Linked DNA regions of Homo sapiens. The protein of the gene in region 1 purifies or fractionates together with the protein of each later gene. This does not show direct contact. Each region holds a gene or a part of one and is shown in the gene's direction. Other genes may lie near its edges.

What was found.
Region 2: the proteins of ARHGAP25 (region 1) and DSTYK purify together in Homo sapiens (affinity purification with mass spectrometry; 3 studies listed by BioGRID and IntAct, with this or other methods). This does not show direct contact.

The regions. Positions count from the first base shown.
Region 1 is NC_000002.12:68,733,172-68,736,923, forward strand, and holds the start of ARHGAP25 (rho GTPase-activating protein 25), read left to right. Parts: upstream 1-1,639; 5' UTR 1,640-2,028; coding exon 2,029-2,089; intron 2,090-2,205; exon of another isoform or gene 2,206-2,368; intron 2,369-3,752. UniProt on the Homo sapiens protein: GTPase activator for the Rho-type GTPases by converting them to an inactive GDP-bound state.
Region 2 is NC_000001.11:205,170,161-205,173,812, reverse strand, and holds part of DSTYK (dual serine/threonine and tyrosine protein kinase), read left to right. Parts: intron 1-2,251; coding exon of another isoform or gene 2,252-2,306; intron 2,307-3,652. UniProt on the Homo sapiens protein: Acts as a positive regulator of ERK phosphorylation downstream of fibroblast growth factor-receptor activation. Involved in the regulation of both caspase-dependent apoptosis and caspase-independent cell death.

The DNA.
Region 1 (3,752 bases):
AGGCCAACCATGGGCCGTGGGAGCCCCATGGACAGAGGGCTCAGAGTTGGAGAGAGCTATCAAATGTGTCCGACACTGCTGATGGGCCCGTGAGATGAAGATGAAGCCCTGACCTGTGAGTTTAGTGACAGGGAAGTCGTAGGTATCCTTGATGAGAATATATTTTGTGGAGTCATAGGGGCAAAAACATCAACCAAGGGATTCGGGAGAGAATAAGAGGAGAGATATTTGCAAGTTAGACAATTCTTACTAAAGCTTGGTTCAGAAATGAAGGAGAGAAATGGGACTCTAGCCCAAGGGGGTGGTGGCATCCAGAGAGATTTTTTATGGGATAAAAAATAGTAAGTTTGAACGCTGACAGGAAGGATCAAAGAGAGAGAAGAAATTGATGATGCAATAGGGATGGGAGAGTGTTAACAGCCAGTTCACCCATTGTACCAAGAATAAGGTCAGGGATACAGCTTGCATGCAGGTAGGTGAGCAGATAGAGTGAGGGAAGCTTGTGGACATTCTCTTTCAGTTACATTGATTTTCTCAATGAAACGGGAACCCAGGTCGTCAGTAAGAGTAAGCAAGTGGCAGGTGAAGAAGAAAGTATGACAGAGTCATCTAGGAGAGTTGGAGAATGAATGGAGCAAGGCGTGCAGCTTAGATGCTGGCTAGCAGTGACTGTTCTGAGCACTTTGTACTGGCTTTTCTACTAAAGCCTCACAACAGCCTATGAAGTAAGCCCTATTATTTGCCCCATCTACAGATAAGAATTGAAGCACAAAGTGGTCAAGAAACTTGTCCATAGTCCCACAGCAGGAAAGCCAGGATTTGACTACCAGTGATCTGTTTCCAGGGCCCAAATGCTTAAGCACTAGGTTAGGCTGACCCAGTTAAACATGAAAGCTTGTCACAGAACTGAACTAAATAGAATAGAATAAAGGTTGAATTAATGTGTGTGGTGCAACCACTCTGTGTCAAGCTCTGCACTAGATTCCTCTGCAAAAACCCTTTGAGTTGTGGTTATTATCAACCCCATTTTACTGATGAGGACATTAAGGTCTGGAAAGATTCAGTTGCTTGTTCAAAAGTTGAAGAGCTAGCAAATGGAAGCCCACACCATGTATACAGCCCACACACCCTGATTCTAAAGCCCACACCCTGTGTACAATGCCAAAGAACCCTTAGGATATGTGAGTGGGTCGACCTAGCTTAAGTTGCTTCATTAAGCCAAATACATCAAAACCCTCCCTACATCAGGCTGAGATCACTTGCAAACTTTATCCTGAGCACCTGGAGAGCTTGCGACATGGTCCTTACAGCAGGAAGAATTTAAAAGAAGATAACTTTGGGGGAATGCTTGTTGTTTTTCTGACCATTTTTGGATGCTTGATCCGTTAGGTGAGGAAGAGGAGAGCTTAGAGTTGAAGTAGATGATGGGAGTTTCGACATTTTCTTCTAATTAAAACTGTAATCTTTTATAACAGAAGCAACCATTCTGGTTTTTCAAGCATTTCCAAAAACCATTTTCTCAAGAAAGAGTGCTCATAATGTATCATCTTCACTGAACAGCCACCCACTTCCTCAAATGCAAGGAAGCAGACAGTTAAAAAAGAAACACACACACACACACACAAAACCAAGAGGCAGCAGTTGTTTATCACGACCTCAACTCAGTAAGGCCTGAGATTCTTTCGAAAAGGAGCTTTGCTTCCCATGACGCAGAGGGAAGTGTCAACTGGGATATTTCTGGTAAAACTGAAAGCAAGAAAAGCAGGGTGCTAGCCCCTGTGGGACTGAGGGTGGAGGCTGGGGGAGTTTGGGTGCCATCCTCCAGTGACAGATGGATGGACCTTTCATCTAAGAGAAAGGAGGAGACACGTTGGCAAATCAGCCTCAAGCCTAAGATTGCTTGTGAAGCAATCATAAGGAGGAACAAAAACAGACACAAAAACAGAGGGAAAGAGTGAAAAGACAAGAAGGGCGCAAACTGTGACAGACTCACCGCTTCACTAACTACTCACTTAAACTGGAAGCAAAATGTCCCTAAAATTGCCAAGGAACTGGGATTTCAACCTGAAAGTGGAGGCTGCGAAAATAGGTATGGTTGGTGTCTTTTCGTTGCCTCTGTGATTCTTACGTATACTCGAGCACCATTTGCATGTTGGTCTGCAGGGAGCATAGTCTACTTAAAAATGGATCTCGCAGCAAATCTGAGTTTGAGGGACCATTTGCATTTAAGTTGGCATGCCAGGTCCAAGTTCTAAAATGCTGGGAGGGGGTTCTCTTTCATTTGGACAAAACAGTGGGATGGCACTCCTTGGTGTGCAGGATCTGGGGTACTTCGGATGATTTAAGGCTACAGACTACACACAAAACTGTGAGTTTTTAGCATATTCCATTTCCTTCCTGTTTGGAAACTCATCCATATTTTGAATGGTTCTGAACAGGAGCACAAAGACTAGAGTCTTTTGAAGTGCTCAATCTGTAAGTAAATTCAATGGGTGTTCTGTTTTGTGAGCCCAGGAGTCAAGGTGTATTAAAAGGTAGTAGCAAAAGGTAGACAACAAAAACAAGACAGGAACATAAAAACGTACTAAAGTATAATAAAGACCTTACTTAATAAAAATATAATTAAAGGAACAGAATGGGAGGGAATTCTTAGATGAGTTGGAAAAGAGATGTATTTTTTATTATTTTAAGGGAGACTGGCATATTTTCTGAGATAGTCTGGCCTTTAATCCATACCCTGTCCTTCTAATGATGATAGTGATACATTAAGTTTAATCTATATATTCGTTATGAAGTTCTTTACATAGATTTCTTCTATTGCTAAATTGGTCACAGTAATTCACATCAGAGCAATCGGGCTGAAAACTATTGCCTACATTTATGTATCTCACCCATACATGAGATAACTTCCTTGATATTAGATATAGATAAGTATTAAGGTGTTTCTAACAGCTTGGAGGAATTTTGCTTGGAAAAAGGTTTAGATTTGAACCTCTAATGGGGTTAAGTGTGCTACTAAAATAAGTGCTCCATTGAAAAGTCACAAGCGGAGCATTAATGATGTAGGTCTGAGAAAGGGTTTGAAAGAAAACAGAGTAATCAGAGAAGCCATTTATCTTGATAACTAGGGGAGATTAGCGTTCCCTAATCAAGCTGTGAATGATTGTATGCTGAGGTCAGTTCAGAGAAAAGGTAATGTTCATACCTCTTACAAAAGCAAGAGATTTTCCTCCTAACTATCATTGATACAAATGTACTTGGCTAATGCTCAATCTATGTCATACAAATTATATGGTTCTGTTCCTTTGAAAGTGTCCTGCTTCTACATAAATAAGGTCATTCTGCCTTCTCTCCACCTATGTTTGAACACAGGTTATTAGGGTCTTACTCTCCTTTGGTTTAAAAAACAAGAAAGTTGAGACAATTAATAGTTAAATGATTTTTTTCACAGATATAGGAAATTACCACACTAGAGCTCAAGACTGCATATACTCAGGTCTGGGATTTGATTGAGTGAATTTCATGATTTTTACCAATGTTTCTTAAAGCATGGTCCCATAGATAACCTATATCAGACTCACATCAAGTGCTGGCTAAAAATGCAGATTTCTGGGCACCATCCTTACAAAATCAGAATCTCTGGAGGAAGGCCCAGGATCCTGCATTTTGACAAGCACCCCCCACTTTCATCCTCACCTGAGGAAGAATTCCTGCTGTAGGTACTGTGGTCTATGTTCACTAGCCCCAGCAGA
Region 2 (3,652 bases), on another chromosome or scaffold:
CAGGAGGCAGAGGTTGCAGTGAGCCAAGATCGTGCCACTGCGCTCCAGCCTGGGCGACAGAGCGAGACTTCATCTCAAAAAAAAAAAAACAACCGTATTGGTCTTACAAATGGACTTGGCAGCTTTGGCTGATGTTTCTGTTGTGCACACAAAATGGTCCTTTAAGGAAAACCTGAAAATTTATTCTAGAATTTTAAGATAATCCATCAGAAAAAACAAACAAAATTCTTCCTGAAATTTCTAAACAATACTTTGGTTTTGAATATTTAGGCTTTCCTTTCATAAATTTGATTGGTTGATTTATATCTTTTAAAAAATATGTCTTTAGGGCAGCTTTGTAATATAAAAAATATTTCCACCTATAATTCTTTACTTTAATGTAACTGTTTTCTTTTCTTTTCTTTTTTTTTTTTTTTTTTTTTGAGACAGTCTCATTCTGTCACCCAGGTTGGAGTGCATGGTGTGATCTCAGTTCACTGCAGCCTCCGTCTCCTCGGTTCAAGCAATTCTCCTGCCTCAGCTTCCTGAGTAGCTGGAATTATAGGTGTGCACCAGCATGTCTGGCTAATTTTTGTATTTTCAGTAGAGACGGGGTCTCCCCATATTGGCCAGGCTGGTCTTGAACTCCTGACCTCAAACGATCTGCCCACCCCAGCCTCCCAAAGTGCTGGGATTACAAGTGTGAGCCACCACACCCAGCCTAATGTAACTGTTTTCCTTTCCTTTTAGTCTTTATCTCATTGTTATATGTGATTATAATGTTGTCATTTATGCAGTTGTATGTTCTATTTTAAACCTTAAAATTTGTTACTTACCAACTTTTTGAATATGCCTGACTGAAATGATTCATACTGTAGCATGTGTGACTCAGGGTAGTGAAAGGGGGTTTGTTTTGAATAGCAAGATGAGCATCAGACTAGTCTTCCAACCAGAAAACATTCCATGCAACTTGAGACACAGATGAAACAGCAAATTTCTTCTTGGCTTGGGGTTGGATAAAGGGTGGATTGACTTATGTAGTGTTTGCTAAAATGACAAATGGTGAGATGCTAAAAGCACTTTGAGCTTTAGGGAGTTCAAAGTGGCCAGGCAAATTAAAGTTATGTGACCTATCTGAGAATATAGCATAGTTCTTTGTGAGAAAAGAAAGTGAGATATTTGTGCTTTGTTGGAAATAAAAAAGATTTTAAAAACTCAAGGCTGGGCACAGTGGTTCACACCTGTAATCTCAGCACTTTGGGAGGCTGAGGCGCAGATCGCTTGAGCTCAGGAGTTCAAGACCAACCTGGGCAACATGGCAAAACCCCATCTCTACCAAAAAAAAAAAACCCAAAAAAGAATGAAAATTAGCTGGGCGTAGTGGCTCACACCTGTAGTATCAGCTACTTGGGTGGCTGAGGTGGGAGGACCACTTGAGCCTGGGAGGTTGAGACTACAGTGAACCTTAATTGCACCACTGCACTCCAGGCTGGGCAACAGCACAAGACCTTGTCTCAGAAAAAAAAAAAAAACCACAAACAAACAGAAAAACTTTTATCAAAAATACCTACTGCTCATGCTGGGTGTGGTGGCTCACACCTGTAATCCCAGCACTTTGGGAGTCTGAGGCAGGTGGATCACTTGAGGTCAGCAGTTCAAGACCAGCCCGGCCAACATGGTGAAACCCCATCTCTACTAAAAATACAAAAATTAGCCGGGCGTGGTGGTGCGTGCCTGTAATCCCAGCTACTCGGGAGGCTGAGGCAGGAGAATTCACTTGAACCCAGGAGGCAGAGGTTGCAGTGAGCCGAGCTCGTGCCATTGCACTCCAGCATGGGTGACAGAGTGAGACTGCATCTCAATCAATCAATCAATAAACCTGCTGCTCAGATAGGGTAAGAAATAAAAACAGCATAATCATCTGAAAGAAACGAAATTGTGTATCTTTTAGACTTCAGACAAAGTAAATATTCAACATCTGATAACTGTTAAGGACACAAACTTGAGCATATTTGTGTTGAGTTCTTTTATAACTCTAAAATATGCTAGAATTCTATGGAGGATTGATTCTGAGTTTACAGACCCTTGAAGACATCAGGAGTCTGTGTACCTACAGTGGTAATATATTAATATGTGTGAGTCCCTAGTTAACCGTTTACACCTGGAATGCCAGGCAAAGTAGACAATGTCAGAGACACAGAGGAACAACCTGTGCAATGGATGGAAATGCAGTAGATGGACATATGCTCTTGTGTGTTTGGAACCTTCACAGGAAAGAAGCAGAACACAAAGTGGAAAGTGCAGACGAGGCAAAGGACCTGTGGAAGGTTTGTTTCTAAACCTCAAACCTCAAAGATCTTTTTTTTTTTTTTTTTTTTTAATTGAGACAGAGTCTTGCTTTGTCGCCCAAGCTGGAGTGCAGTGGGGCGATCTCAGCTCACTGCAACCTCCGCCTCCTGGGTTCAAGCCGTTCTCCTGCCTCAGTCTCTGGAGTAGCTGGGGCTACAGGCGCCCACCACCACACCCGGATAATTTTTGTATTTTTAGTACAGATGGGGTTTTGCCATCTTGGCCAGGCTGATCTCAAACTCCTGACCTCAAGCGATCCTCCTGCCTTGGACTCCCAAGGGCTGGGATTACAGGTGTGAGCCACTGCGCCGAGCTTAAAGATCATTCTCGAAACTCACTTTAGCAAACTTGGGTATTTCAGTTAGGATTAGGTTCAATTGTAACAGATCATCAAACAAACAAACACAAAAAAACCAGGAACTTAAAGATAGAGTTTTTGGGTTTTTTTTTTTTTCCTTACATGAAAGAAGTCTGAAGCTAGGTAACTGAGAGCTGGCATGGCAGTTCTGTGATCACCAGAGACCTAAGCTCCCTCTTTCTTTTGGTGTCATCATCTTTAGTGCTGGCTTCCACCATCAGGTTTGCCTTAGGGCTGCTGAGTGATCGCTGCTGTTCTAGCTGTCACATCTGTGCTCCAAGCAGGAAGAAGGACAAGGCCAAAGGACATATTTCCTGGTAGAATCCACCCCCTGTACCCTAAAGGGCTTTCCTGGAAACCCCACCCACTTATCGGATACCCCTATCTGTAAAGGACATTGCCTTCACTTATAACATGGAGACTAGATATTGGATAGGCAAACCTTGGTCTTTGCCATACCAAGTGATCGATCATATTCCTAAAGGTATTTCTTAGACTTAGGTTGCTAAGACTTCGGGATATCTACAGACTCAGAACAGGACAGTAATAATGTTTGGTGAACCTGGCTTTTCGTTTCCTGCTTAATTGATTAATTCAACAGTATTTAGGACTTACCACATGCTAGGCACTGGAGCTACGATAGTAAGCAAAATAGACCCAGTCCCTGCCCTCAAAGAGTTTACAGACCCATGGGGGAAAGAAAGGTTTTAAAGAAGTGGATTATAAATATGTTGAACCTTAAGAAGAGGGAAGTAAAGTGTGCTTGGTTGGGGCTGTGTGATAGGAAAGGCTCTATAAGGATATGTCATAACATATACATTGAAACTTAAAGGATGCTTAGGAGTTAGCCAGGTCAGAATGGCAGGGATGGAGGTGTCAGAGGAGAGCAAGAGGGGGAGGAGTGCCCCAGGTCGACTCACTCCCAGTCTGATAATTTCCATTACAATTCCTTTTTCTTCCATTATT